7 separate regions of the Homo sapiens genome follow, and regions 2, 3, 4, 5, 6 and 7 are each linked to region 1. The links come from fine-mapping of genetic effects on gene expression. A gene starts in region 1. Each other region holds a variant in brackets. All regions are shown on one strand. Distances are between the middles of the regions. Region 1 holds the start of GRAMD1B (GRAM domain containing 1B). Region 2 overlaps GRAMD1B (GRAM domain containing 1B). Region 3 overlaps GRAMD1B (GRAM domain containing 1B). Region 4 overlaps GRAMD1B (GRAM domain containing 1B). Region 5 overlaps GRAMD1B (GRAM domain containing 1B). Region 6 overlaps GRAMD1B (GRAM domain containing 1B). Region 7 overlaps GRAMD1B (GRAM domain containing 1B).

What was found. PIP is the estimated chance that this variant, and not a neighbour inherited with it, causes the effect.
Region 2: its variant is the best candidate, but not a certain one, in a credible set for the expression of GRAMD1B in sun-exposed skin (GTEx, PIP 0.69).
Region 3: its variant is the best candidate, but not a certain one, in a credible set for the expression of GRAMD1B in whole blood (INTERVAL, PIP 0.89).
Region 4: its variant is the best candidate, but not a certain one, in a credible set for the expression of GRAMD1B in whole blood (Lepik 2017, PIP 0.76).
Region 5: its variant is the best candidate, but not a certain one, in a credible set for the expression of GRAMD1B in whole blood (TOPMed, PIP 0.81).
Region 6: its variant is the best candidate, but not a certain one, in a credible set for the expression of GRAMD1B in cerebellum (GTEx, PIP 0.73).
Region 7: its variant is the best candidate, but not a certain one, in a credible set for the expression of GRAMD1B in tibial nerve (GTEx, PIP 0.60).

The regions. Positions count from the first base shown.
Region 1 is chr11:123,428,120-123,432,185 of GRCh38, reverse strand. GRAMD1B (GRAM domain containing 1B) reads right to left here and starts at 1,917. Exons shown (of 20, transcript NM_001387025.1): 1 at 1,020-1,917. The coding sequence starts at 1,393. LOC124902776 (a long non-coding RNA gene) reads left to right here and starts at 972. Exons shown (of 2, transcript XR_007062928.1): 1 at 972-1,239; 2 at 3,370-4,066. RefSeq lists silencers at 1,290-1,339, 1,450-1,779.
Region 2 is chr11:123,542,561-123,546,626 of GRCh38, reverse strand. The region is part of intron 2 of GRAMD1B (GRAM domain containing 1B); the gene reads right to left. Among named protein-coding and RNA genes, the nearest start is that of SCN3B, 110 kb to the left of the region's middle. The variant C/A (reference allele first, on the strand shown) is at 2,129.
Region 3 is chr11:123,591,681-123,595,746 of GRCh38, reverse strand. GRAMD1B (GRAM domain containing 1B) reads right to left here. Exons shown (of 20, transcript NM_001387025.1): 5 at 1,581-1,665; 6 at 909-1,012. Among named protein-coding and RNA genes, the nearest start is that of SCN3B, 61 kb to the left of the region's middle. The variant T/C (reference allele first, on the strand shown) is at 1,734.
Region 4 is chr11:123,470,332-123,474,397 of GRCh38, reverse strand. The region is part of intron 1 of GRAMD1B (GRAM domain containing 1B); the gene reads right to left. Among named protein-coding and RNA genes, the nearest start is that of GRAMD1B, 42 kb to the right of the region's middle. The variant A/G (reference allele first, on the strand shown) is at 1,845.
Region 5 is chr11:123,483,145-123,487,210 of GRCh38, reverse strand. All of the region lies in intron 2 of GRAMD1B (GRAM domain containing 1B), which reads right to left. Among named protein-coding and RNA genes, the nearest start is that of GRAMD1B, 55 kb to the right of the region's middle. RefSeq lists an enhancer at 4,022-4,066. The variant T/C (reference allele first, on the strand shown) is at 2,528.
Region 6 is chr11:123,571,166-123,575,231 of GRCh38, reverse strand. All of the region lies in intron 2 of GRAMD1B (GRAM domain containing 1B), which reads right to left. Among named protein-coding and RNA genes, the nearest start is that of SCN3B, 81 kb to the left of the region's middle. The variant T/C (reference allele first, on the strand shown) is at 1,866.
Region 7 is chr11:123,493,035-123,497,100 of GRCh38, reverse strand. All of the region lies in intron 2 of GRAMD1B (GRAM domain containing 1B), which reads right to left. Among named protein-coding and RNA genes, the nearest start is that of GRAMD1B, 65 kb to the right of the region's middle. RefSeq lists enhancers at 2,603-3,119, 3,120-3,636. The variant C/T (reference allele first, on the strand shown) is at 2,270.

The sequences.
Region 1 (4,066 bases):
CATCACCACTATTAGCTGTTACTAGACTGAGCTCACAGAAATATTCAGTAAGTACTTACTGAATTGAAATCAATGTAATTGAACAGATTTGGAGAAGGAATTCCAGGGAAAGTGATCAATGACTCAGTTGCTCCGCACAAGAACACAAATCCATTAAGAGACAGGACCCTAAAGTCTCAAAGTAAATATGTAGGATTCGTGGTACCGATGAACAAGTGAGGACTCCCTGCCCTCCACCAGGCAAGGGGCTTGGCTCAGACACAACTTCCTGAAGCAGCAGTCCTGACCAGGGCTGTGTAGAGCTGCTCTAGGGCGCCCTGCAGCAATTCTCTACGTGAGGGAAGCTCAACCTTCTCCCATTACCCAGATGCCACATTGACCTAGGCAAAAAACTAGCTGGTACAAACCACAGTCTTGTAGGTATCGATGTCTAAAGACTCTGATATGGTAGGAAATGTGACTCACTCAATGTCAATATTTCACTTCCACACAAGTGAGCCAGTTAAGGCAATCCGGTGTGGCCAAACATAAAATAAGATTGAAACGGAGTCCTGAAATATAAACCACTTAACTGTTCTCTGGCCTTTTACTATCTCCTTCTGTAGAAAGGGAGCCATAGTAATACCTACCTCAGAGAGTTTGCGTAGGGATGAAATCTGGAGGTACATGAAGTGCGCAACATAGTGGCCCGCACATGGTAAGGGCTCAATAACTATTAGCTGTTATTATTTTTATTATTTATTTCGCTGCGAGGATCAAGGGAGATGGAATGCAGCGTAAAGCCCCACGTAAACGTGTCGTGCAACATGAAGCCCCTCACCCTGAGTTGGGGAGCGGGTGGCACGCGTGGAAGCTGAATGCCACCATCCCTGGGACCAGGCGCAGCGCCCTCCAGAAGCGCCTCTGGTGACGGGCTCCTGTTCTCCCCCAGGACGTTTCCCCCAGAATGCCCCGGGGCCCTGGACGGCTCTGGAGAGGACGGGAGGGAAGGGAAGGAGACGGGCGGAACGGGGACGTACCTGCTTTCACTGCACTCCTTCCGCTCCCTCACCCTCAGCCACTTGCGGAGGAGGAAGCGTTTTCGGCGCGGGGACGCGCTGGGTGTGGAGCAGTTGGACCACGGGGTGTCCTCGTCGCTGGAGGGCGTGATCTCGATGGACGGCAGCTGCAGGAACTCCTTGCCGGGGGCCAAGACGGCGGGCAGGTCCCGGGCCAGCCCGGCCTCCAGGCTCTGCTCCTGTACGTTCTTCATGCGGCGCATCTTGAAGCGCCGGCGGCGAAGCGTGGGGGTCGACGAACTGGACCAGACCGGGCTGCCCTCGGGCGCACCCTGCGGCTCGGGCACCTGCAGGGCGGGCAGCGGCCGGTTCTCCATCATGTTGGCCGCCGGCATGGGGGCCGTCGCCTCTGCGCTCCCCCTGAGCCCTCCGCCAGCGGCCTGGTTCGCGTCTCCCTCTGGCTGTTCCCCACCCTCGGCCCCGCGGCACACTCCCCAATCCTGGGGCCGAAGGAACAAGTTCCTTTCCCGGAGCGCAGCGAGGAAGGGACGCGAGGGGACGCGGCGTAGCGCGCCGCCGCCCGGAGTCTAACTTTTCGGAGCGCGCGTCCTCCGGGCCGTCAGCCGCCGGCGAGGCCACCCGGGAGGGGCGGGAGCCGCCTGCCAGCCACTCGGCAGCCCTCCTGGGGCTCCCCTCGCGCGCCCGCTTGTTTTTCTTCCGCTGCGCTTCCTCGCTTGCTGGCGTCTTTGCCTTAGCGGGACTCGGCAGCCAGGGGCCCCAGGGGGCGGTGCAGCAAACTCTCAGCGGTTTGCGTTCAGCAGACCAGGTTGGGGAGCCGGCTTGGCGCTGCAGGGAGGTAGAGAGCGGGAGGAAGAGGCAGTGGTAGGAGGGAAAGGGAGAGAGAGACAGAGAGAGAGAGAGAGAGAGGAAGCGAGACACTGGATAAAAACAAAAAAGGAGGAGGAGGAGCGGGGGCTGGGGGCGGGGTGAGGGGGGCTATCCTGAATGGGCTAGCACTGGCAGCGACCGCTAGTGTAACTGTACACGGATTCCCTCGGGGAGGGACTCGACCTCCAAGTAAAGGCTGCTCCAATCAGCCTACTGAAATAGGATCACAAACCAAACTTTCTCAGGGCAACGATTGGCCAGGCAACTCCCATTAGTCGAACTCGGCTATTTCCTTGGGGGTGGGGGGTGCAGAGAAAGGGGAGTCAATGAATTCAGTCCTCACTCTCTCAGGCCACCCATGATACAGGGTTGAAGGAAAATGAGGAGACTTTTCAACTAGCTCTTGTCTCCTAAGAAAGGCAGTTTAAATTATTTGGGGGCGTGAGTAGTGGCACTGCAGGCCGGAGTATAGTCAGAGGAGGAAAGCAAGGTTGCTGGAGGCTGCTTCCAAAATGACAAGCTGAGAAGAGGACAGTTCTCCCGTGGCGGCGTGAGCTGAGGATACCAGACATGACATACCAAGGAAAGACAGACAACAGGGTCTGAGAGACAAAGGACACAGGACCAGTAAGGAAAATGGGGCCTGAACCCTGTACATGAGCCAGCTGCCAGTACCATAGCCGCGTCCCTAGCAAAGAATGAAATGAGGAGTCGGTGAGCACCCACAAAGCAATGCATCCAACAGAGCCCCAGGGAGTCGAGGGTACCCCCCCTTACATTGCTGAGGGCTGATTCAGTTCTGCTTCAGCCTGCCATGGACTGAGTCACAGAATCCAGTATGTCCCCATGTCATGGAACCTAGGAAGTCTGGTTCAGTCCTGGTAGCATCCCAAGATGTGCTGAACCACACTCACTCTCTAGACCCAGGCCCTAAGAGATCATCAACCCTAGAACCGATCCATCCTATTTAGGTGCTCTCTGTGGGCACTGAGTCTAACCCAGCCCAGCTCCTAGAGCAGGGCTGTAGCAGCCATTCTCCTCCTTCAACCCCAGCCCAATGCATTTGTCTCTTGGGTCAGTAACTGTTTTGTTTTGTTTTGTTTTTAAGAGACAAAGTCTCACTCTGTTGCCCAGGCTGGAGTGCAGTGGTGCAGTCATGGCTCACCGCAACCTTGAATTCCTGGGCTCAAGCTGTCCTCCCAGCTGAGCCTCCTGAGTAGCTGGGAGTACAGGTGCGCACCACCACACGCAGCTAAGTTTTATTTCTTTTTGTCGATATGAGGTCTTGCTATATTGCCCAGGCTGGTCTCAAACTCCTGGCCTCAAGTGATCTGCCCACCTTGGCCTCCCAAAGTGCTGAGATTACAGGCATGAGCCACCATGCCCAGCCTGGTCAGTAACTTTCAAAGAGATCATGAGAAGCACCCAAGAACATACCATGAAGTCCACAATCTGATCCACCCTTCTTTTCTGCCTCTCTCAGAGTCCAGTTTCCATCTGGGAGCCAATGCCCAGCTTCCGTGCCAGGACAAAAGTCACATTTCACAAGTGTCCCGAAGCTGAGGAAAATTCACATCCCTAAAGATCACAAGAATTCACTGCAAGTAAATACATCCCTGCAGTTCAGCAAGACATCAAGGATGACAGCTGGCTATGGATCTACCAAGCTCTGCAATGACACTTGTCAAGTATGGAAAAGCTCAAGGCATCCTGACATTACACAACTTTTGAGAGGCTGGGAAACCAAGGGAAATATTTCTTCCTCAGGGAGAGAGATACTGCGGCTGAAGAGCCAAGGCCAGGCCCTCCCATAAATGACTCCCTGGAATGTCAGCCCCCGTTTCTGAAATCCAGCCACTGGCCCTCTCAGGAGTGATTTGGTTTCACTCTACTTTAACTCCTGGACATAGCACAGAAAGCAGAAACCCCTTGCCATCAGGTGTCAGGCCTGCCAAGGTCACCTCTTCCGGCTCCAGGGATGCTGAGGAGATTGCACTGTAACTCCAAACTTCAGGATCGGGAGCTAAGCCAAGTTCCACAGAGTTTGTTCACTGCCTTGTACTTCCTCCAAGGACGAGTGTTTTGCAAGGGATCTGATAACTTCCCAGTTCAAGGAACCTGAGTTTTGGGCGGGCTCTTGACATAGAAGATGAGGGTCTCAGGGGCTTATGGGAAGAAAG
Region 2 (4,066 bases), 110 kb before region 1:
GCCCTTTTCCAGCCTTGATTACTCCCAGACCTCACTGGGGAACAGGGGCAGATTGAAGCTGGGCAGCTCAGTCCTCCCAGGTTGGCCATCTCTCCCAACCTCCACATACCTCATGCCATATTCATAAGCAGCTGGACAAATAAGTCTCCTAAGTAGTGAATAGAAAGAGAGATTAAAGAGTACAAGAAGAAAAAGAAACCTTGAGCTGAATACTAGACATGTAGTCTAACAGCATCATTTTCAGAAAAGTAGTAGTTGAGCAAAACCAGGAAGTTATAATAAAAGCTTGGATGCGTGCTGAACCGTGGTGCCCATTTTGGCTTGACAGAGCTCCCAAGGGTAATGCCTCCCACATACTCCTGGCTACACCCACCCCGATCCCCCACAGACACTTCTGTCCATCCTCCTTCCCTGAGGTCAGAAGACTGTGCAGAGGGTTAAATTTAACTCAGGGGACCAATTTGGGCGTGGGTAGTAATTATAATACCTTGTACTTATGTCTAGCTATTCCTGGCCTGCAGCTTGTTTTCCTTCAATTCCATCCAAAGAGGTCAGTGAGCCTTGTAGATGTGGCTTCTGGGCCCTCCTGGGACAGACTTGCCGATGCTGTCCACATTGCCTGGTGGTGGAAACCAGGAAGGGATTTTTCTCCTCACTCTGTAAGCCACAAGGCAGGGAGGACAAATGACAGGGCTGCCTTTGCAGAACAAGTCACGCAGACTGAACTGAGGACTAGCCTGGGCTCAGCTCAGAGAATTGCTGGTCATTTAGTAAAGCACACAGAAAAGCCAGCTTAGCCAGGCAACCTTGCTGATAAGAGATTATTCAAATTGTGATCTCCAACTTAGATGACCAGTTAGTTTACCAAAAAAAAAAGAGAAAGATTTCATGAAAACTTACATAATACTCTTATCAATGAGGCAGTTCTGTTGTAAGAACTTTATAAATATTAATTCCTTTAATTCTCATAACAATTCTATTTAATGAGCACTATCATAAGCCTATTTTAGAGGTGAGAAAAGAGGCAGAGATTGGCTGAGAAACTTACCCAAGAGCGTACAGATAGTAGCTGGTGGGGCTAGGATTCAAACCCAGGGGCCTGGCTCCAGGATACCTGCTCTTGACCACTAACGAGAAGCTACCCTGCTCAAATTCATGGGCCCCAGGCAGATATTCTGATGGACTAGGTCCCCACATGATTCTGATGACTAGCCAGGTTTGGGAATCACTAAGTCAGTGGTTCTCAAACTGTGGTGTGCTTATTGATAATCGGATTCCCGGGGCCCAGAAATTCTGGAATTGGAACCCAGAATCTGTAGTTTTAACAAGCACCTAAGGCGATTCTAGGGTGGGTGGGGCAGGAAAGGAAGGCACTGGAGAAAGGGTGCCTGCAGTCCTCCCACTTCACCCCACCCACTTGGGGCACAGAAACTGATGCGGGCACCTCACTGAAGTCTGCAGAGACCATTCTTTCTCGCACCGGGGCGGCTGCCCTGGAGGAGGGGAGCTGGTGGCTGTGAGGCAATTCTGTCCCTTAGCCTCGGTGACAAGGCTGCCTTCAGAGGAGGGGAGGGTATGTGACCAAAGACAGCCCACTGTCCTTCCACACTTGACACGCTGCACATCAGAGGGAGACAGGCAGTTGGTAACAGGGAAAGAAAAAGAGACTAGGCGGTCTGGCCCCTATCTCCCATCGCCAGAACAATGGCCTCTTCAAACCCCTGGCATCTGAACTGGCAGTCAGCCACCAGGAAAGAAAAGAGCTCGCTGTCCCTTTAAGGACGTCCTCTCTACACAAAGGTCAGAAATGCCAGCTCAGCCTATCCAGAGGCTGCCTTTTTGGCACTTTGGGGCCCGGGGGCCCTGGTGGCAATGCCCTTTCCAGCTGGTTCTCTGTGCACCTGCTGGCTTCTGAAGAAGGCAGGGCACCTGGATGACAACCGCCGCTGTGGGCAATGCTCAGTGACAGGGCAGGAATGGCTGATGTGGAGGGAACCCAGGACCTCCTGTGCATCTCAAGTTTTCCTCCCAGGGAGAGTTAGCAAGAAATGGGTGTTGGAGCAAGGTTGGAAAGCCACCTACAGGAGGAGGGGTGGGGTCAAAAAGAAAACTGGCCAAGGAGTGAATG[C/A]TCCAAGAGAGACATATATGAACTAAAAGAGCAAAGGCTAACCGACAATTGGCCCAGAAATCACAAAGAGAACAGAGTAGAGAGTAGAAAGAGTTAGGAAGGAAAGGTGGTCAGGGGTTTGGTTGGAAGCAGTGGGGTGGTTAGGGCAAGGGCTTTTATTCTGCAGACTGGGTTCAAATCCTGGTACTTGACCTTGGGTACCTTTCCTAACTTCTTAGCCTTGATTTCTCTACAATATTGGCATACATTGAGCAGTAAATAAATATCAGAAACAAATACTGTCTGTTATTAGGGCACTAGCCACTCCATGTGTGTCTTGTAGGCAGCTCAGATGTTCAATCTCTCCTCAAAAGGCCTAATTCCCAGACCACACCCCTGGTTCTAGTAAATCATCTTGCAAATAATGCCATGAGCAAAGGAGGCCCTCATTAAGAAAATTGCACGGGCTGGTGCAAACCATGAGTCACCATGAGTCTTGTGGAAAAACAACTCAGAATTATTCAACTGCTAACAATATAAAGCAAGGTCGGCAAACTTTTTCTGCAAAGGGCCGGACAGTAAATACTTTAAGCTTTGCAGACCACACAGTCTGTCCTAACTACTGAACTCTGTTGTGATAGGGCAAGAGCAGTCACAGACAACAAGTAAATGAAAGCCTGTGACTACATCCTAGAACAAATTACAAAAACAGGCAGCGGGCTGAAGTTTGCTGACCCCTGAGATAAAGGATGGCATCAGTGGAGGAAATGGCGAATTCTTCTGCGAAATGGGATCAAAGATATGGAGGCAGAAGCCTATTTCTTGACCTTCTACCTTAGGAATGCAAGTATTTTACCCAGTTACTTGACTTCCAAGAAAAGTTTCTGGCTAACACCAGCCAACTGCACTGACTTCTCTATTCTGGTTTCCTCAGCATTCATATCCAGAGTTTATAGGTATCTCTCTCCACTTCAAAGGTTTCTTTTTCTTGCTGTTATGTGACAGTGGGAGCTGCCCATAAGCAGGGTTTCCTCCTTTGGCCAACTTAGTGAGGGTTGAATGGCCACCCCCAAGGTGTCCACACCAATGTCCTTCATAGCAAATGTCCATCCCCTATCCAACTTCCCTGGCCACAGAGGTTTCAGGTCTGTTCTTTACCAGCTTCCTGAACAGCTACACATCTCAGAAAGTCCATGTATATTTTTATTCTTTCACTGATCCAGTTAAATAGGGGAGTGCCTACCATGCTCCAGGTAAATCTTAGAAAGCAAGCATTTCACCTCTACCTTGGTTGGCAGTGAAGGCTGGCAGAGAGGCTATGGTTGGCGTTCTCTCAGAAGGCTCTCTGAGATGTGTTTATTTCCTGCTCCCTGGTGTCTTCCCACCCAGAAGCTCGAGCACTGCAAAATGACAATTTCTTAACGGCAGTAAAATCGAGAGGTATAAAAAGTAAGCTGAGAATGAGGAAACAGTGAAATCAAGTGCAAAGGAGGTAGACAGGGAAGAAACAAATTCACTTCACTGTTTCAATTTAAAAAAAAAAAGAAAAAGAAAAACTACTCGCCAGGCTGGGCGCAGTGGCTCATGCCTGTAATCCCAGCACTTTGGGAGGCTGAGGCGAGTGGATCACCTGAGGTCAGGAGTTCAAGACCAGCCTGGGCAACATGGTGAAACCCCGTCTTTACTGGAAATACAAAAAATTAGCCGGGCATGGTGGCACGCACCTGTAATCCCAGCTACTCGGGAGGCTGAAGCAGAAGAATTGCTTGAACCCAGGAGGCGGAGGTTGCAATGAGCCAAGATCATGCCATTGCACTCCACCCTGGGCAACAAGAGCAAAATTCCGTCTAAAAAACAAAACAAAACAAAACAAAAACCTACTTGCTGGCATCATTCTCTCCGCATAGAATGACCTCATTCCACAAACCCACCCTATGTGGTCCCAGCTTTTCTTCAAAG
Region 3 (4,066 bases), 160 kb before region 1:
GCCTTGTCTACAGCCATGAGTATCTTGATTCTTGGGCAAAGAGCTTTCTAATTTCTATACAGTCTGCTAAATGTGCAGAGGTCCTGCCATTATTTGCCACTTACAGAAACACAGAATATTGGTGCAGGATGTGGCCATATAAATCATCTAGTTAGGCTGGGCACAGGGCTCACATCTGTAATCACAGCACTTTGGGAGGCGGAGGCGGGCGGATCACCTGAGGTCGGCAGTTCAAGACCAGCCTGACCAACATGGAGAAACCCCGTCTCTACTTAAAAAATACAAAATTAGCGGGCGTGGTGGCGCATGCCTGTAATCCCAGCTACTCGGGAGGCTGAGGCAGGAGAATCGCTTGAACCCAGGGGCTGGGGGCAGGGGCGGAGGTTGCAGGGAGCCAAGATTCTGCCATTGTACTCCAGCCTGGGCAACAAGAGTGAAACTCTGTTTAAAAAAAAAAAAAATCATCTAGTTAATCTTTCTCTTCCTTAGTATACGAGATGAGGAAATAGAGGCAAAGAAAGGACTAGCCTAAAATCACACCGCTGATTAGTTACAGAACCCAGAAATTGTGCAAGCCGGTTCTTTAAAGTCCCAAGGCCAAAGCCCTTTCTACTTGACTATGCCTCCTCCTGCAGTCACTCATGCCAAATATTTGCCTGCATTTGACAAAAGCAAATGTTCCCAGTCCTCTCTTCCACACCCAAAGGGGAGGGAGGGAGGGGAAGACATGGCAGAGGAGACCTGATTATTGGGACTTAGAATTGAATATCTTTCAAGACTCAGGCATGCTTTTGTTAATTACGCAAAGGCTTGGGAAGAGCATGAAGTCAGCAAAAGGAAGAAAGCGAGGGCAGCTTGCTCAGCCATAGCCAAGGAGACAGCCCAAGGGAGCATGCCCAGGTCTTTACCAGAGTTTCCCAGCGGAAGATGTTGCTGTAGAAGCAGATCCAATTTTCAGAGAGGTAGAGTCGGCCCTGAAGGAGAATGTCTCTTTGGAGTGCACATGAGTAATCTGTGGTAGGAGCGGAGGTAGGGGAGCTCAGAGGCAGGAAGCATTTTCGGCAAACCACTGCAGAGTAGGCATGTCATCCCTCCCACCAGCACTGGGGGAGCCCAATGCCCACCACGGACAAGGGGTGCCAGACACTTGAACTAGCAGCCAAGGAAGTCCCTACCATCTCATGATGAGGAGCATAAAGGTGGTGTGATGTGCAACTGCCTAGAGGCAGATAAATAAATGTGAAGGCAAAGTGGGCCAAGGAAGCAAGAGGTGGAAAAGACCAACAAAATTCAACTAACTTCCCTCCCCAGTCCACAACTATGCTAACCCCTTCTGCCACTGGGCCAACTGCAGAGATAAAAATGCCAGTGACTCACTCCAGGTTGGGCTCTTGAGGCTGCCACAAGCCTGATACTCAGCCTCGAGCCCTGACAGCTGGGGCCAGGGGTCTGGACAGCCTCTCTCCCTGTTCCCTTGCTTACCTGGGTTGGCTTGAGGCCTCTAGAGAGAAGCACCCTGAGTGCTATGCCGGGGGCTCCCCAGACTTCCTTCCCATCCCCTCCCAGGTCACCCAACTCACCAACAATGAGGCGCTCCGTGTCTGGAAGCTGCTTAAAGAGCTTTCTGAAGTCTTCATTTCTCTGCTTGTAGGTGGGGCTTAACACCTGCGTGACAATAGCCAAGGTTAGTAGGATGTACCCCGGTTCTGTGGGGTTAGGAAGGAAGGGCAAGA[T/C]GAGGAGCACTTGCTTGTGTGTTTAAAAAGCAAAGATGAGGCTCTGCCCTCCCACAGACCCTAGGAGGCCAGGCTGAGGAACGGCGCCTCGGTGTGGAGAAACACAGTGGGGAGAATCTGGTGCTGGGAAACACTATGCAGCCAGGGCCTCCACCAGTGAGAAATGCCAGACACAGCAAGGAGGGGCTCTCGTTATATCCCGTAAGAGAAAGGAAGGAGGGACACCTCCAGGGTGCTTCCTGGTATCCACCATGCCAGCTACTGCTGTTCTGCCTTCTGCCAGCACCACCTTGACAGTGAAGCAGGGACCCAAGAAGGCTGCCCAGCCCCCCATGATGTTGCCCAGAGCACCTCTCAGAAGAAGGTGTTGTCGTGATTATCAGAGTGAGCACTTGGCTGTGTGGGAAAGACATGATTTTCTAAGAAATCACATAAAACCAGTACTGCAATAAGCGCAGAGATAGAGAATTAAAAAAACACAACGGGCACACGAGAGGCATCCAACTCCCCTCTCCATCCTTACATTATCTAAACCAATCCTTACAGCATCAAGGAAGAGACCAAGGCCAGAGAGAAGCCCCCTGCCCCAGGTCCTCAGCTGGTCAGTGTCAGATCTCATGACCCCTGGTCCTGTGCTCACTTCCCCCCACTGCAACATGATACCCAGAAACTGCCTTAGCAAATCCTCCTTGGAAATCCCATGAGCCAGCTGAATACACAGAAATCCTGCCCTTTGAGGGCTTACAATCTTGTTTGTTTGTTTGTTTGTTTGTTTGTTTGTTTAGACAGAGTCTCGCTCTGTCACCCAGGCTGGAGTGCAGTGGTGTGATCTCGGCTCACTGCAACCTCCACCTCCCGGGTTCAAGCGATTCTCCTGCCTCAGCCTCCCGAGTAGCTGGGACTACAGGTATGTGCCACCTCTCCCGGCTAATTTTTGTATTTTTACTAGAGATGGGGTTTCGCCATATTGGCCAGGCTGGTCTCAAACTCCTGACCTCAAGTGATCCACCCACCTCGGCCTCCCAGAGTGCTGGGATTACAGGAGTGAGCCACCGCGCCCGACCCGAGGGCTTACAATCTTAAATTTAAAAAATAAAATAAAAAAGAAACTAAAAAGAAAATACGTGCCCACAAATGAGGAGCACCGGGGGTGACAGATGAAATCAAGTGCAAAACCTGGGACGAGCCACGCACGGCCAAACGGAGACACCCACACTCCACCTGTGATGCACTGACTACCTACACAGAGACAGCACTGCTGACCCTCAGCCTAGGGTGTAGCCAATGGCTACAAAAACAAAACAAAACGACAACAACAAAAAACTTAGAAAACAACATTCCTCTGGCCCCTATATTAGTTTCAAACTGGCACTGAGATATGGAATCAAGATGGCCCCCTAGCCTCTTAGAACAGAGTCCACACACTGAAAACCCCAGCTTGACCACCTGATCGCCAGTGAGTTCTCATTATGCCTAACTGACCTTCTAGAGCTGCTATGTGGCTAACATGGAGTTATCATCACCTACCAAGCACAGCCATAAGCCATGTGCATGTGGCACTGCATCAGACCCCAGATTATTTTTATTATCCCATTTTGCACTTGAGGAAATTGAGAAACAGAGAAGTTAAGCAACTTGGAGTGGAATATGAGTGAGGCAGTCTGACTCAGTGCTGTCTGAGCCCCTACTCTGTGCTGCCTCTGGAGGGTAACTGCTCCTGGTCCTCCTGCCAAGAGGAAGCAGAAGGGCTTCCCCAAAAGAGCACACTCCCTTGAGAATGAGATATTTACCTGCTTTGCGGCCCCTGCTAGCCTTCCAAGCCCTCTACTAGGTCTTCATACTTACAGAGTTCCAGTGTCAGCCTGAGGAGCAGCCGACCAGGAGACCCCAAACACACTTCAGGTGAAACCGGATGTCAGGCCTCCAACCCCCTGAAGCCCCAAGTCTTCCTATTTCTAATTTCCTGTCCTAGTGCCTTCTCCCCCTTGCTTCTCACATATCCAGTAATAGCTCAGGTATCCACAGAGGTGGAGGTACAGGGCGTTTGGCCACCATCTCCAACCCGCAGGCAAATCGAGGGGGCCGCTACTTTCCTTAAAACAAAGCTGTAGCAGTGGCAGGGAGAGGGGAGAGTGAATCCAGCCCTGGCCTGCTAAGTCAGCCAGTCTGGAAACTCCTTTATCCAGGCTTCCCAACACAAGCCTATTCCACAAGGCTGTTGTGTGCATGGCAGGCTCATCAGTTGGGCATGCTGGGCCTGCCACCATGCAGCCTCTCGAAGCCAGGGACCCCAGCCCTCTCCCTCCTCCACCCCCAAAGGCGGGGCCTGGCTC
Region 4 (4,066 bases), 42 kb before region 1:
CTGACTCTGCCACTTAGCAGAGGGGGAGATTGAGAAAATTATTTCACTTTTCTAACAGTCAGATGTGGGTAATAATGCATGCCTTAAAAGACTGCAGTTCTGTTGGATTCAAGATTGCCATTACTTTAAAAAAAATTAAAAGTTAAAAAAAAGAAAACATTGCAGTGGGGATTAGAAATGGTAGAAATCATCTGTAGAACATGTTTAGGGCAGTAGCAGGCCCTTGGTGAGTGTATCATAAATGGTGGATATCTATTACACTGAGTATTCAGTTAGTGTGTCAGAATATTTTGAAATAGCCAGTGCATGGGAGAAAGATAACAGAAAAGGCCCTTAGCCTGAAAAGTAGGGCCTCACCACCACTGACAGAAGAGAGAGCTGGGTTTTCATGCTAAATTATTTCTACATATAAAATGACTCTGGCATTTACTATTTCAGCTTAAGTAGGAAAGGTGTATGGGGGAAGAGAAGGCAGGTAGCAAAGATGGAGAGAATAAAGGAGGAGTTTCTGTGTGCCACCTGGCAAGCAGGTATGGACAAGTCTAATAATAGAAAATAAGTAAACAAATGTGACTGGGGTACTGCCACCTCCTTACAGAACATCCCTCAATATCCTCAAACACCACTTAGAAATAACATACTTGAGGTGAATATTGAGAATTTGTCTACCGAGTTAGAAGGTTCACTTCTGCTTAATAGCTCCCATGGGAACCTGCAGCAAGGTGGGTAGAATCCCTGGTCAAAGATTCAGGGATTCAAAATCCAGCTAAATATCTTCCTAGCTCCTTACAACTCATGAATACTTCTCTATTTAATGGTTCTTGGGACTGGGTGAGGTGGGTCACACCTGTAATCCCAGCATTTTGGGAGGTTGAGGAAGGAGGATCTCTGGAGCCCGGGAGTTTTGAGACCAGCCTGGGTAATACAGTGAGACTTCATCTCTACAAAAAATAAATGAAAACAAAAATTAGCACGGTGTGGTGGTGTGTGCCTGTAGTCCTAGCTACTGGTGATATGGGAGTTAAGAAGAAATTGTCAGGGCACGGTGGCTCACGCCTGTAATCCCAGCACTTTGGGAGGCCGAGGTGGGCAGATCACCTGAGGTCAGGAGTTCGAGACCAGCCTGGCTAACATGGTGAAACCCCGTCTCTACTACAAATACAAAACTTAGCCAGGCATGGTGGCAGACTCCTGTAATCCCAGCTACTCGGGAGGCTGAGGCAGGAGAATTGTTTGAACCCGGAGGCAGAGGTTGCAGTGAGCCAAGATTGCACCATTGCTCTCCAGCCTGGGGGACAAGAGCGAGACTTCGTCTCAAAAAATAAAAGAAGAAATTATTTAGGCAGATAGTGAGGGTAAGGAAGTCCTCCGTAAGATTTTCCTGTTAATGAAAAGCATCCCCCAAATCATTTTCTTTTCTAACAAAGAGCAGCCTGTAAAATTTAGCTGCAGACATAGACAAGCAAGCTGGAAGCTTCCATGGGTGAATGCCAGCAGTTGTGCCAATAGGAAAAGGCTACCTGGGACTAGGCATGTTCAAAATGGTGGCTCCATCTTCCCTTCTCTTTGCCAGCCACATGTATGGTAAGGAGCAGACAACATGGTGCCAGCCAAGTGGAAAGCCCATCTGGATAATAAGATTAGGGTGGAGTGGCCAGCCTTCCCCCTGGGCTATGTAAACGTCACACCTGGTCCAACCAGTCTGTGAGCCCTATATAAATCAGACACCACCTCCTCAAGCCTGTCTATAAAAATCTGGTGCACTCCACAGCACCTGGCGTAATTCCCATTTGGGTGCCCCTCTCTCTCACAAGAGTGAGTTGTTCTTTCTCTTTCTTTCGCCT[A/G]TTAAACCTTCACTCCTAAACTCACTCCTCATGTGTGTCTGTGTCCTTAATTTTCTTGGCATGAGATGACGAACCTTGGGTATTACCCCAGACAACAACGCTGCTTCACCGGGGAGGCCGAGGTGGGAGGAACGCTTGAGCCAAAGAGATCAAGGTTACAGTGAACTATTATCACACCACTGCACTCCAGCCCAGGCAACAGGGTGAAACCATATCACTAAAAAAATAAAATAGTTCACCTCTGAACATGCCCATGTCTGTGTTTAACAAAAGAAAAGGCTCTCTCTCCACTTCTTTCTTTTTTCTTTTTCTCTTTTTTTTTTTTTGAGACAGAGTCTTGCTCCATTGCCCAGGCTGGAGTGCAGTGGCATGATCTTGGCTCACTGCAACCTCTGCCTCCTGAGTTCAAGTTCCCACCTTAGCCTCCTGAGTAGCTGGGATGACAGGCCCGCACCACCATGCCTGGCTATGTTGGCCAGGCTTGTCTTGAACTCCTGGCCTCAAATGATCCACCTGGATTGGCCTCCCAAAGTGCTGGGATTATAGGCATGAGCCACCACACCCAGCGTTAGTTTTCCTCTCTTGATGGCCATTTTATTGCAAGAACATACATACTACTTTGTAATTGCTGAACTTCCATTAAAACAATATTATAATAAATTCAGGAGCTTTACTATGCAGATTCCTTGGCCCCTCTCCAAATGTATGAAGTCGGAGTATGAACCTGTCCAGGTATACGTATTTTTAAAAAGCTTAAAAATGATTCTGGGGGGCAACCAGGATTTGAGGTTCACTGGATGTTATACTCAATGCCCCTACTTCTTCACCACTGCTTTATGAATTAATCTATTGCAATGTGCACCCCAAGCCTACCTCTCCTTGGTTTTATCAGCAGGGACCTCTGTTACACCAAGACCAACGACAATAGTTAAATCTTAATCTTTGACCAGCCAGGCAGGTCTGACATTGATGACTATTCTCCTTCTTGAAACGCATATTTCTTGCATTCTCTGGCATTACTCTCCCCTGTTTCTTGCGTTTTGTCCTACTTTCACTTCTTTTTCTGGGGAAGTTTCTTGGGCTCTTCTTCTATTTGGTCCTAAAATGTTTCCCGGGACTCATTCAGACACTCATTTAAAATTACCAAGCATCAACTATGTACTAAGCATTGTTCTAGAATCTAGATACTGGGTATAGAGCAGTAAACAACACAGATGAGGTCTCTGCTCTTAAGGAGTTTACATTCTATTGGGTTCCTGCTTCTTCCTGTTTTATATCAGGGAAACCTAAGTTTTGTGGACCTCTGAAATTGTTATCAATATAATGTGCAATAATACTATATGTTCCTGAGAGAAGTTTACAGCCTTCATCAGATTCTCAAATATGCCTGGGCCCATATGAGGTTAAAATCTACTGCAATTCATCTCTTTGTGAGATCTTATCACACTCAAGGCTTCAATTATTATGAATATGCTGATAACTCCCAAAGATAGCAGAGCACAGAACTGAACGATGTGGTCACTCGTCACATGCGGCTACATAAATTTAAATTAATTAAAAATGCAGTTCCTTAGTCACACCAGTATTTCAAGTACTCAACATCCATATGTGGCTCGTGGCTTCATTGTGGACAGTACAGATAGAGAGCATTTTCATCACTGCAGAAAACTTTATTGGACAGCACTGGTATGGATCAAACCCAGGATTTGAGTTCTAGCTTGGCCACTTGTTTTCTTAGCAACTCAGAGCAAATTTCTTAACCTCTCTCTACATTCCCATCCTTTTATCTGTCAAAATGTAAGCAACTTTACAGACCTGTTGTGAGGATTAAGCAAGTTAATTAATATCCAGCACTTAACGTGGTAGCCCTTCCTAGTTTACTTTTTGTGTTCCAAGCTCTTGTGTTCTCTTACTTGGGAGGCTGAGGCAGGAGAATTGCTTGAATCCGAAAGGTGGAGGTTGCAGTAAGCCGAGATCGTGCCACTGCACTCCAGCCTGGGTGACAGAGTGAGACCCCGCCTCAAAAAAAAAAAAAAAAAAAAAGAAAGAAAGAAAGAAAAATGTGAGTTGGCTGGGCATGGTTGCTCATGCCTGTAATCCTAGTATTTTGGGAGGCCAAGGTGGGGTTATCACTTGAGCCTTGGTGTTTAAGTCCAGCCTGGACATCATGGTGAAACTCTATTTTTAAAATAAATAAAAGAAAAAAAATATGAGCTGCTCTC
Region 5 (4,066 bases), 55 kb before region 1:
TTCCTAAACTCTAATATGCAGATAATGGCATGTACCTGATAAGGCTGTTGAGAGGAATATATTTAAAAATGTATGCAAGGTTTATTACACAGGTTTAAGCACAGAGTAAGCACTTAGTGAACTTCTTTATTTATTTTCTTTTGAGACAGAGTCTCACTCTGTCATCCAGGGTGGAGTGCAGTGGTGCGATCTCAGCTCACTGCACTCTCTGCCTCCTGGACTCAAGTGATTCTCCAGCCTTAGCCTCCTGAGTAGCTGGGACTACAGGCGCACACCACCACACCCAGCTAATCTTTGTATTTTTAGTAGAGACAGGGTTTTGCCATGTTGGCGGCTGGTCTCAGACTCCGGGCCTCAAAGGGATCCACCCCCATCGGCTTCCCCGATTGCTGGGATTACAGGCATGAGCCACCACACCCAGCTTGTAAAATTCTTCAGTTTTATTACCTTACGCATAATTTCTTAAGTCATTTATTACATTATATTATACTTGTTTATTTGTAAGTATATCACACCATAAGAGAATCAGCTTCTTGAGGGGAAATACCACAACTTAATCTATTTATCTGGAGTCTAAATATGTGACATTTGCAGATGCTCAATATTCTACACTTTCTTTCTGCCTTTGCTTTTTCTTTTTGTTTTTTTTTTTTTTTCTTTTTTGAGACAGGGTCTCACTCTGTCACCCAGGCTGGACTGCAGTAGCACAGTCTAGGCTCATTACAACCTTCGCCTCCCATGCTCAAGGGATCTTGTACCTCAGCCTCCCAAGTAGCTGGGACCACAGGCGCATGCCACCATGCCCGGCTAATTTTTTGTAGTTTTGATAAAGACGGGCTTTTGCCATGTTTCTCAGGCTGGTCTCAAACTCCTGAGCTCAGGCAATCCACCCACGTCGGCCTCCCCAAGTGCTGGGATTGCAGGGGTGAGCCACGGTGCCCGGCTTTGTCTCTGCTTTGTCAAGAACAGAAGGGTGTAAGATCTGGTAGGAAACTGAGAGTAAAATGTTATGATAGCCAGAATCAGAGTGCAAGCAGCTACCATTTATTAAGCATCCACTTAATGGCTCTTTACGAATGTTTTCTCATGTATTCTTTACAAGAAAATCCAATGGACATCAAATTTTTACAAAGGAGGAAACTAAGGTTGAGGGTTGAGTAACACTAAGTAAATTGACTTTACAAATGCACAATCAGGCTGGGTGCAGTGGCTCACGCCTGTAATCCCAACACTTTGGGAGACAGAGGCAGGTGGATTGCTTGAGGTCAGGAGTTCTAGACCAGCCTGGCCAACATGGTGAAACCCCATCTCTACCAAAAAATACAAAAGTTAGCCAGGCATGGTGGCACACACCTGTAGTCCCAGCTACTCGAGAGGCTGAGGCAGAAGAATCTCTTGAACCTGGAAGGTGGAGGTTACCGTGAGCCAAGATCATGCCACTATTCCACCCTGGGTAACAGAGCAAGATTCTGTCTCAAAAAAAAAAAAAAAAAAAGAATGAATTAATGTCCTATATTCCATACACACACACTTCGGGGAAGTTACCTATTTTGCTTTCTACTGGACACCTGGAAGAATTATTCTTATCTCTGAGACAATCTCCATTTCCTAATAAACACATTTTCATAAAAATCAACCCTTCTTGCTGATGCCACACCCACTCAGCAAATGTATGTCACAGTCCTTCAACCTACGCTCTACTCCTGTCAAGGTTCCAAAGTCTTTCCTTCAGGACAGAGCGTCAATGTGAATAAGGAAAAAATCTTTCTCAGAAATCCTTAGGTTTGAACACCGTATTAAGGTATTCCACCCACTGCTGTGTAGAGTAAGGTAGCTACGTAGTCTCTGAATACTATAACCGTTCTGAACCTTACACAAAAGCAAGAAAAGAAAATGTTTTATTAAACCAGCTGAAAGTGCATCTGGTACTGAAAGATTTTAATTTGAATCTTTAAAATAGAAGAAATCAATGCTAATTTTTTTGCCTGCTCTATGAAACAATCTTTCATGTTACAATTGATGATATGGTTTGGAAAATTAGAAGAAGCCACAGAAAAAAAATCCATAATATCCACCTCATCCTTGACCGTTTTCAGTCAGTGACAATACTACCCAGCTCCATCTGCCACCCAGGGGCATTACGAAGAGTAAAGAAGATGACTGCAGGGAGGCCTCACCAGTGCAGGAAATGCCGCCATTCACAGCTTGGTGCACTGTCCCTCAGAGGGGGCCAGAACGAGGAGCACAGGCCAGATGCCCGCCACTGCCCACATCTCCCCAGGGTTCCAATCTCACCCCAGGTCAGAACATCACAGATCAACGTCCTAAACACCTGGAGACTCTTAACTGGGTAGGAAGAATTAGGTGCAGAGCGTAAGTTAGTTCTGAGCTGAGCCTGGGAGACTAATTTGAGCTCCGGAAACTTGTTCTCTCCAGGAGAAGGAACCCAGCAGCCAAGATGAGAAGAAAGACTTTCTTCGGAAGGGCTATGGTGAGTGAACACATACTAGAGCCAATTTCTGAGGTT[T/C]TGGGGGTTGGAGGGGGGGCCGGTCACAGGGACCACCAGAGGAAGCATACTTCTGACCACATTCTCTCTGTTCCTCATACTCTCCAAAGCGAGTTGATGCAAAACAACATCCCCATCCACCATAAAGAGCTTAGGGGACTGCGAGTGGGCCAGGATGGGAACAAAGGACCCGGGAAGAAATCGAGAGAGTTTTTCTGGGCAGAGGTTTAGATGGGAGAACCTTTGTAACATTTCCTGTGGTTGGAGGAGTGAGTGGTTAGAGAGGAGAAATTAGAATAGAATTTATATCAGTGTAAAGTCCCAAATACCAAACAAAAGGCAGAGTTCTCTCTAGTTAGCAAGCAGCTATGTCCTTGGGGAAAATGTATTAGGGTATATGCATCTCAGCACTACTCATCTCTTCCAGGAATGCCCCAAGCAGCAGAGATAATATAAAGTGAGTTGAGGAACTGTCAATCATAGAACTGGTAGAAGAAGAGCAGGCAAAGACATCACGCTCAGAAACGGACAGTATACTTCTGGAGATGTTTGGTGCACAGCACAGGGAAGGTGGCTGTGCTGGGCGACCTCTGTGGCCTCTTCTAATTTTGAGATTATGATTGCTGCAATCTAGAAAGCTTTGCACAGAGAGTGGAGGGTACTCCAGGGACTGAGAGAACTGCCATCAGATCAGATCGTACCTGATTAAGCATCTTGACAAGAATGATTAGTCTTTGCTCCTTGGAAGTGCCATGTCTCCATATACGTCGGTCTAAATTGATAAGCTGAACTGTTTTGATTAACAGGGGGCATAAAACTGAGAACCAGGGCAGAACTCACAAGACTTCATAATCTAAAGAAATAAGGACTAGAGAGGTTCCACTCTCTCAACCAGAACGAAATCCCTTTTGACACACCACCCAGCTTTTGCTTGAACACTCCTATGAAGGGGAGAGATTACAGCAGTCCCCCCTTATCTGCGGTTTGTTACCCACAGTCAAGTGTGGTCAGAAGATATTAAATGCAGTGGTGGCTAATGCCTGTAATCCCAACACTTTGCAGGGCTGAAGCAGGCGGGTCACTTGACCTCAGGAGTTGAGAGCAGCCAGGGAAATGTGGCAAGAACTTGTCTCTACAAAAATATACAAAAATTAGCCAGGTATGGTGGCAGGCGCCAATAGTCCTGGATATTCAGGAGGCTAAGGTGGGAAAATCACTTGAACCCTAGAGGCAGAGGTTGGAGTGAGTTGAGATCACGCCACTGCACTTCAGCCTGGGTGACAGAGACCCTATCTCAAAAAAAAAAAAAAAAAGAAAAAGAAAAGAAAATATTAAATGGAAATAAACAGTTCATCAGTTTCAAATTACGTGTCATCCTGAGAAGCACGATGAAATCGCTTGCTGTCCCACCTGGAACGTGAATCATCCCTTTGTTCAGCATATCCACGCTGTATACATGCCCCACCCGTTAGTCACTTCGTTCTCAGTTCTCAGATAGAAAATCCAAGCTAGTACAGCTCTATCATGGAAGAGTGCTTTCTTATCCTGAGCTGCAATCCT
Region 6 (4,066 bases), 140 kb before region 1:
CAGAATCCCTGCTAACTGGCTTCAAGCAAGAGGTTGGCAACACACTCTAACCAGAGGAGAACTGACTCCAACTATCCAAAACCACACGAATCTCACATGAAATGATCAAAGCATGAGAACTCCTCACCGCCCAGCAGTCCCACTTTAGCCCACTCTACACACACCATGCAAAGATCTACACACCTAAAATGCTGCCTTCAACACATCAGCCAATAAACAACTTATACCATCTCTCTGTGCTCTTAAGGCTGTTGATCATCTGTGCTGTTCTTGGAAACTTCTCCCTGATGACAAGCACCTCTCTTCTACTCCTCTGCCGGTCTCAACTACTGTCTCAACTCTTGCTACCCAGCCTGCAATTAATCCTTCCCTAAAGGTGAGTCTGTCACCTCCCTGGCCGTCTCCAGCTTTCTCTAACTTCAACCAGGCAGAGACTCCTCTACCTGCTTCCGGCCCTGGTCACAGTCGCTAGCCTGACCCAACAACCTGCTGCCAGGTGGATGCTTCCTCCAGACAATGTCTCATGAGTGCCCCACACTGAACACAGAGCTGGACATCTTTCCTCCCAGACCTCCTCCCACGACTGCCCATTCTCAATGGCAGTTTCATTACCAGGTTTCTCAGGCTGCAGACCCCTCTCTTCCATCTCACTCCACTAAAAAATGAGTCACTGAATTCCACCAATTCTATTTCTACAAAGCTTTTTACCTCATCCTTCCCTTCCTTCCCCAGGGCCCCAGTTCAGGTTCAAGGAATTCTGCTCACCCTCTTCCAATAAATAGCCAGTTGAGTGGTCTTCTCTGCCTCCTTTTCCTCTTCCTACTCACTCACAGCTGTGTCATTAATCTTTCTAAATACAAGCCCAACATCTTACTGTGTTCTAGTAGCTCCCACATTAAAGTCCCAAATCCTCAAAATGGAATCTAAAGTTCTCTGCTAAAAGTAAATGACACCTCTATGCTTTTTCTCTCCTTATATGCTCTTAAAGGGCTTGCATATTCCACACCTATACACTTTCCCCCAATTCCCTTAATATACATGCTCTTTCTCCTGCCTCCAAACTCCCATACGACGCACTACTTGAGCCTAAAGAGCCCTTGCCCTCTGCATCTCCCTGCTGGAGTCCTGCTCTTTCTTCTTTTTTTTTTTTTTTTTAATTCTGTTCATTCTTCAAGACCCATTTCAAATCCCACTTGCTCCAAAAAGCTTTTCTAAATCTCCACCTTGGAGCTGACTAAAGCACTGAAAGCACATAGCCTGGTATGAAGGACCTACAAACTCCTGGAGGCTCAGCCCTCTGCACGCCCCACACGACCCAGCAGGGCTCTGTAAGTGGCATGTTTTCCGCTGAACTGAATCCCATCCTAGTGACAGTCTTCATACCCTTGGCTTTACCAATTCCGAATATCAAGATGGCTCCCAAATCTGTACCTACAACCTGCTAATATTCATAAAAATAACTAAACATTATTGAGTGTTCATGAGCTCCTGGTGCAGCACCGAGTACTTATTAAATATTATTTCGTTTAATCCCCCCAACAAACCCATGAAGTTGCAAAGAACAGTATTATTAGTCCCATTTTTCAGGTGATATATTTGGATTCTTGACAGATTAAATAATTCACCCAAAGTCACACAGATGGATGGGAGGCAGGGCAAGATTTCAAACTTTCAAACACAGGCCTATCTGATTGTCAAGCTCATTTTCGGAAGCAGGCATTCAATTGTGTTTGTTTGCCCGGTGGACAGAAAGAGGCACAGATGGAAAGACAGTGGGTAGCTGGGTGAGTACAAAGAAAGAAGGAATCAACTTCCTGCCTCCAGGCTTCAATCCATTCTCTCTTTTCCTGTCAAAGTGAACTTTC[T/C]AAAAAGAGGATTTGGCATTTTTTTCATCCTTTTTGATGATTAAAGACCCCTATAATTTCCCACCCTCTGTGGAATAAAACCTGAACTCTAGACTATATGTTCCTCAATTATCTCACTCAGCCTACCTCTGAAAACCCCAACACTGGCTACATTTCCAGTGCACCTCTGCCTCAGCCATCGGGGTCTAACTGAGCTCCTGCCCCAGCCATCAGGGCCTACCTGCGCCCCTGCCCCAGCCATCGGGCCCTACCTGCGCCCCTGCCCCAGCCATCGGGGCCTACCTGCGCCCCTGCCCCAGCCATCGGGGCCTACCTGCGCCTCTGCCCCAGCCATCGGGGCCTACCTGGGCCTCTGCCCCAGCCATCGGGGCCTATCTGCGCCTCTGCCTCAGCTATCGGGGTCTACCTGCGCCCCTGCCCCAGCCATCGGGGCCTCTTTGTGCCTCTGCCTCAGCCATCGGGGTCTACCTGCGCCCCTGTCCCAGCCATCGGGGCCTACCTGTGCCCCTGCCCCAGCCATCGGGGCCTACCTGCGCCCCTGCCCCAGCCATCGGGGCCTACCTGCGCCTCTGCCCCAGCCATCGGGGCCTACCTGCGCCTCTGCCTCAGCCATTGGGGTCTGTCTGCAGATCCTTTTGCCATACACACTCACTCTTCCATGTCTCAGCAATCTCTCTCTCTCTCTCTCTCTCCCTCCAATTACCTGATGGACATCTACACTTCCAGACTAAGCCCACATATACCCCTTACATGTCCCCACCCGGTGCTCTACCTCCACTCTGATCCTTCTCTACAAAAGAAGAAATGTTTGCAGTTCTAGTTCTAACTCAGCAAAGTCAGCACTAAACTTGCTAGAGTCCTGAAACTCTTACCAGTTAACCCATTATCCCATGGATTTGGATGTCCTGCTGAGCAAACAAAACCAATTCCTGAGTATCTTCTAACACCTAACATGCATAACATAACATAAAGTTTCAAACCAACTTTATAATGTGCCATTCATCTGACCCTGCCACTATTATTAATAACAGGATTGCATTATATTTCAAAATCTTGGGATTTAAGAGCTAAAAATAAAAAAGACCTTACATATGCTGTAGGGATGGAAGGAAGACTGGTGTTAGATGGGCTATGGGACTAAGACTCCCTCCCAGAGTTTAGAGTTAGTATATTCAGCTCTCAACTTCACATGTAAGAAACCTGAGTCTAGGGGGGTTAAGTACCTAGACAAGGTGATATGACTTTGGATCTGGCTCTTCAGTTCCACAAATATTTCCTGACCACCTGGCATATGTGAGGCATTCAAGTTCATTTTGGTGAATGAGAAAGGATCTGTGTGCTTGGGACATTTCCAGTCAGGAAGAGCTAGAGGCCTATTCTTCCCGTGTTAATATAATCAGTAGGTGGGATGATAGAAGAGAATAAAGGAAAACAAGAAATGCTGCCTTGAGGATGTGGCACTTGAGCTAGATTCAGAAAATGTGTTGGAGTTAGCCAGGTGAAGGGTACGGGGTTCAAGGAGGGCACGGTAGGAGAGAAGAGAATGTTCGGGGTGGCGGACAGCATGAACAAGGGTGAAAAGGCATAAAATAGCATGGGATATATGGAACATTGACAGAAACCATGAGTCACCAGGTATAACATGCTCAAGCTGATGTTTTAGAGATTCCTGAAATCATCAGCTCTCATTCATAATAGGTCTTCTAAGACCCCCACCAGCCACCTTTAAGCCATGGCAGGGGACCCGGAGGTCATTCATTCATTTCCCCATTTCCCCTCTTTTTAAGACCTGCAACACAGACTATTATTGCTCTCCTCCCCTGGTTACCTTGCTAGCAAACAGTGCTCCCTGAAGTCTGATCACAGTATCTCATGCTACCTATGGTTTGATCCTACCTCCTATAGTTAGGTCTAGCTGATGTCCTTGAGAAAAGGGAAGTAGAAAAAGAGGATGAGGACTCTCTTCAGGCTTTCTTCAGTGACTCTCTGCGGCATCCCTGCCCCCACCCTCACCCCCCACGCCCACTGCAGACACGGTGGCCGCTACACCACTTTGCTTGGCTTTCTTCCTCATCCTTATCCCCACTGTGGTCCTGCAGGCACAAGGCAGACCTTGTCAGCAAGCCAGCTCCCTGATCAGCTACCCGTGCATTTTTCAGAATCCTGAGTAGAGCAGAATAGTTAGTTGGTGTTCCGGTGTT
Region 7 (4,066 bases), 65 kb before region 1:
CAAAAAGAATAAGCACAAACAAGCCAAGACTGTGAAGACTACAATAAATGCCTAACTCTTCAATGCACAGACACCAAAGAACATCTACAAGCATCAACACCACATCTAGGAAAACATGACCTCGTCAAACAAACTAAATAAGGCACCAAGGACCAGTCCTGGAGAAACAGAGATATGTGACTTTTCAGACGGAGAATTCAAAATAGCTGTTTTGAAGAAATTCAGAAATTTAACATAGCACAGAGAAGGAATTCAGAATTCTATGAGATAAATTTAACAAAGAGATTGAAATTATTAAAATGAATTAAGCAGAAATTCTAGAGGTGGAAAATGCAACTAGCATGCTGAAGAATGCATCAGACTCTCTTAATAGCAGAACTGGTCAAGCAGAAGGAAGAATTGGTGAACTAGAAGACAGACTATATGAAATATGAAAATACAGTTAGAGGCGACAAAAGAATAAAAAACAATGAAGCATGCCTACGAGATCTAGAAAACAGCCTCAAAAGGGTAAATCTAAGAGTTATTGGCCTTACAGAAAGAGATAGGGGTAGAAAGCTTATTCAAAGGGATGATATCAGAACTTCTCAAACCTAGAGAAAGATATCAATATTGAAGTACAAGAAGGTTATAGAGCACCAAGCAGAGTTAACCCAAAGAAGACTAGCTTAGGCATTTAGTAGTCAAATTCCCAAAGGCCAAGGATTTTAAAAAAGGATCCTAAAAGCAGCGAGAGAAAAGAAACAACATACAATTGAACTCCAATACATCTGGCAGCAAACTTCTCAGTGCAAACCTGACAAGCTAGGAAAAAGTGGCATGACATATTTAAAGTGCCGAAGGAAAAAAAAAACCTTTTACCCTAGAATAGTACATCTGGTGAAAGTAACCTTTAAGCACAAGGGAGAAATAAAGACCTTCCCAGACAAACAAAAGCTGAGGGATTTCATCAACTCCAGACCTGTCCTATAAGAAATGCTGAAGGGAGTTCTTTAATCTGAAAGAAAAGGATGTTAATGAGCAAAAAGAAATCATCTAAAGGTAGAAAACTCACATGTAATAGTACACAGAAAAACACAGAATATTATATCACTGTAATTGTGTTGTATAATGTACTCTTATCTTCCATAGAAAGACTAAATGATGAACCAATCAAAAATAATATCTATGGCAACTTTTCAAGACGCAGAAAGTACAATAAGACATAAAGAACAACAGAAAGCTAAAAAGCAAAATTAAAGTGTAGAGTTTTTATTTGTTTTTGTTTGTTAGTTTGTTTATGCAATCAGTGTTAAGCTGTCATCAGTTTAAAATAATGGGTTATAAGATAGTATTTGCAAGCCTCATAGTGACCTCAAATCAAAAAAACACACAACCGATGCACAAAAAATAAAAAACAAGAAAAGACAAAAAAAAAAAAAAGAAGAAGAAAGACAAACTTCGCATGGTTTCACTTATTTGGGGGAACTAAAAAGCAAAACAATTGAACTCATGGAGAAAGAGAGTAGAAGAATGGTTACCAGAGGCTGAGAAGGGTAGTGGAAAAGTGGGGGGAAGTGGGGCTGATCAATGGGTACAGAAAAAATAGAAAAAATGCGACCTAGTATTTGATAGCACAACAGGGTGATTATAGTCAATAATCATTGTACATTTTAAAATAACTAAAAGAGTATAACTGAATTGTTTGTAACACAAAGAATACATGCTTGAGGGGATGGACACCCTATCTTCCATGCTGTGACTATTACATCCCTGTATTAAAGTGTCTCATGTAACCCATAAACATATACACCTACTATGTATCCATGGAATTTTTTTAATTTTTTAAAAAGCATATTAGGGCTTGTATTTATATTTATGTTTATTCCATCTTATTAAAATTTGTTTCATTATATTACAGTATACATAAAATATTTAGTACAGAAGTACACACATAATTTATGTGTGTGTGTATGTGTGTCTGTGTGTGTGTGTGTGTGTGTGTGTATGTATATATACATATGGTATGTGCTCAAACAATTTTAGTGATAGGTGTTTGAATCCAAGCCGGAGCATCAACTTCTGGTACAATGACTTCCTCAATACCTAGAAGAGCAAGTTAGGAGTAGTAAAGAGCTCTCCCGAGCTTACATGATTAATCAGTGAGTGATTGAAAAGAGAACCCAGCAGTTTATCCCCTGACTTCATCTCAACCCTGGAGTACAAGGGAGGCAAAGAATGCAGCAGAGAGCAGGACAAGCCTAAGATCGGACTCTCTGTTTTGAGCCCC[C/T]GAGTTGCCACCCACTCACATTCCTTCTTCGCTGAGGCTGGTAGGAGGATGGAATTTCTCCCAGCAGGAAGTAGGGAAGCTGGGGAATAAAAATTACCATCCATCCTGCCAGTTGTCCAAATCTAAATCCCAACTATGGCATCAGCAAAGATAAGAGGAGTTTGCTGAGCTATAATTAACAACCCCCCTTTCTCAGGCACAAAGAAGAAGGGCTAGAGTAGGAGAAACAGAGCAGGTGATGGTTACACCTGCAGACAGTTCTGCTGACAGCCACAGAAGCAGCCAGGACTGCTAAAGAGGAGCTCTAAGCTGGGAACTTGGGGAAGCAGGAGCAAGACAGGAGCACTCACTTGCTTCTTTGCCCTGCCCTCAAAAGTCAGAGCTTAGCTCAGACCTAAAAAAAAAAAAAAAAGGCCTTAAGTGCTGTCTTCCACAAGACCATGTGACCCCCTAAGCATATGTGCAGGTGGATCAGAGAAAGGGGAACATGTGAGAGGTGGTCACAGATCAAAACATTTCCATGAGCATGAAAAGTTTAAAAAGGTTAATAGATGTGTAAAGGTCAGTCTTTGCCCTCCATTTGGGCTACAGTCACGAAATTCCATGATCCTAGAATGTCAGCATTAACAAAAAGTCGTATATGGTTATTCATTGGTTCATTTACTCATTTAGTAAGTAGTTAAGTATGATTATGTGCCAGGCACTGTGCTAAGTGTTGCGGACACAATAAAACAAAGATGGTCCCTGCTCTCATGCAATTTAGGGACTAGTTGGGGAGACAGACAATGATCAAGTCAACAAATAAATACAATTATAATGTGATTAATGCTAAAATGGAAAATAAGCCATTTATTTTGATGCAAGTGAGGGAGAGAAACCCTACTGGGACAAAGGGGTAAGAGGCAGCCTCTCTGAGATGTGACAGCTCCCAGGTGAGGAATCTGAGCTGAGAGCAGTTCGAGTGATGAGTCACTAACAGGGAGGAAGAACTCAGGTCTTCCTCTCCACCAACAGCACCACTATTAACAACATTGTTCCTGGGATCTGAACAATAGGAACATCTGGGGCCTCTACTGAAGCTGTTTACAAAGGGACACTTCCACTGCAGAATTTAATCAAAGTGAGCCTCTTCTGAGATGGGACCCTCTTCCTAATCAGCTGGAACAAGCTGAACACCTTCTGGGCCCACGTTCCACATGGAGTTCGAGTGGGCTGCCTGCGGGTAGGTCTGGAAGCCCGTCCACACAACTGCCACTCTGGGCTTTTCACCCCACCCTCAAGGCAGCTGTCTCTCACCAGGACAGTGAGGACCAGAGTTTATATAACTGGCTTCCCCTGGCAACTGGGAAGTCAAACATTACTTCTCATGGATTCATGTGTGGCTTCCCTTAATAAGTTTGCAAACCTCCTGCTCAAAACTCACTCTCCACACCCCTTGCAGGCTAAGCCCAGGCCTACTATTTGCTGACAGTGACACAAGCTGCCACTTACTGTGTGCTACGTCCAGACACAGTGCTAAGTGCCTTTCTTATTTTATCTCAGTTCAATCCCCACAAGCTCCATAAAGTAAGTACAATTATCTTCATTTTTCAGAAAGGAAACATTCAGAGAGGATGAAATGTTTTTGCAAAAGCACCACAGCCAGGATGTGGCAGAGCTGGAATTTAAACTAAGGTATTTTGGTCTCCAAAACCTGAGTTCCCCGCAGCCATTACTGAATCTTGTCCTTGCACCACATCACAGGATCAGAGACTTCCTTATTCTACCATTATCTGTTGAGAACCTACTGTGTGCAAG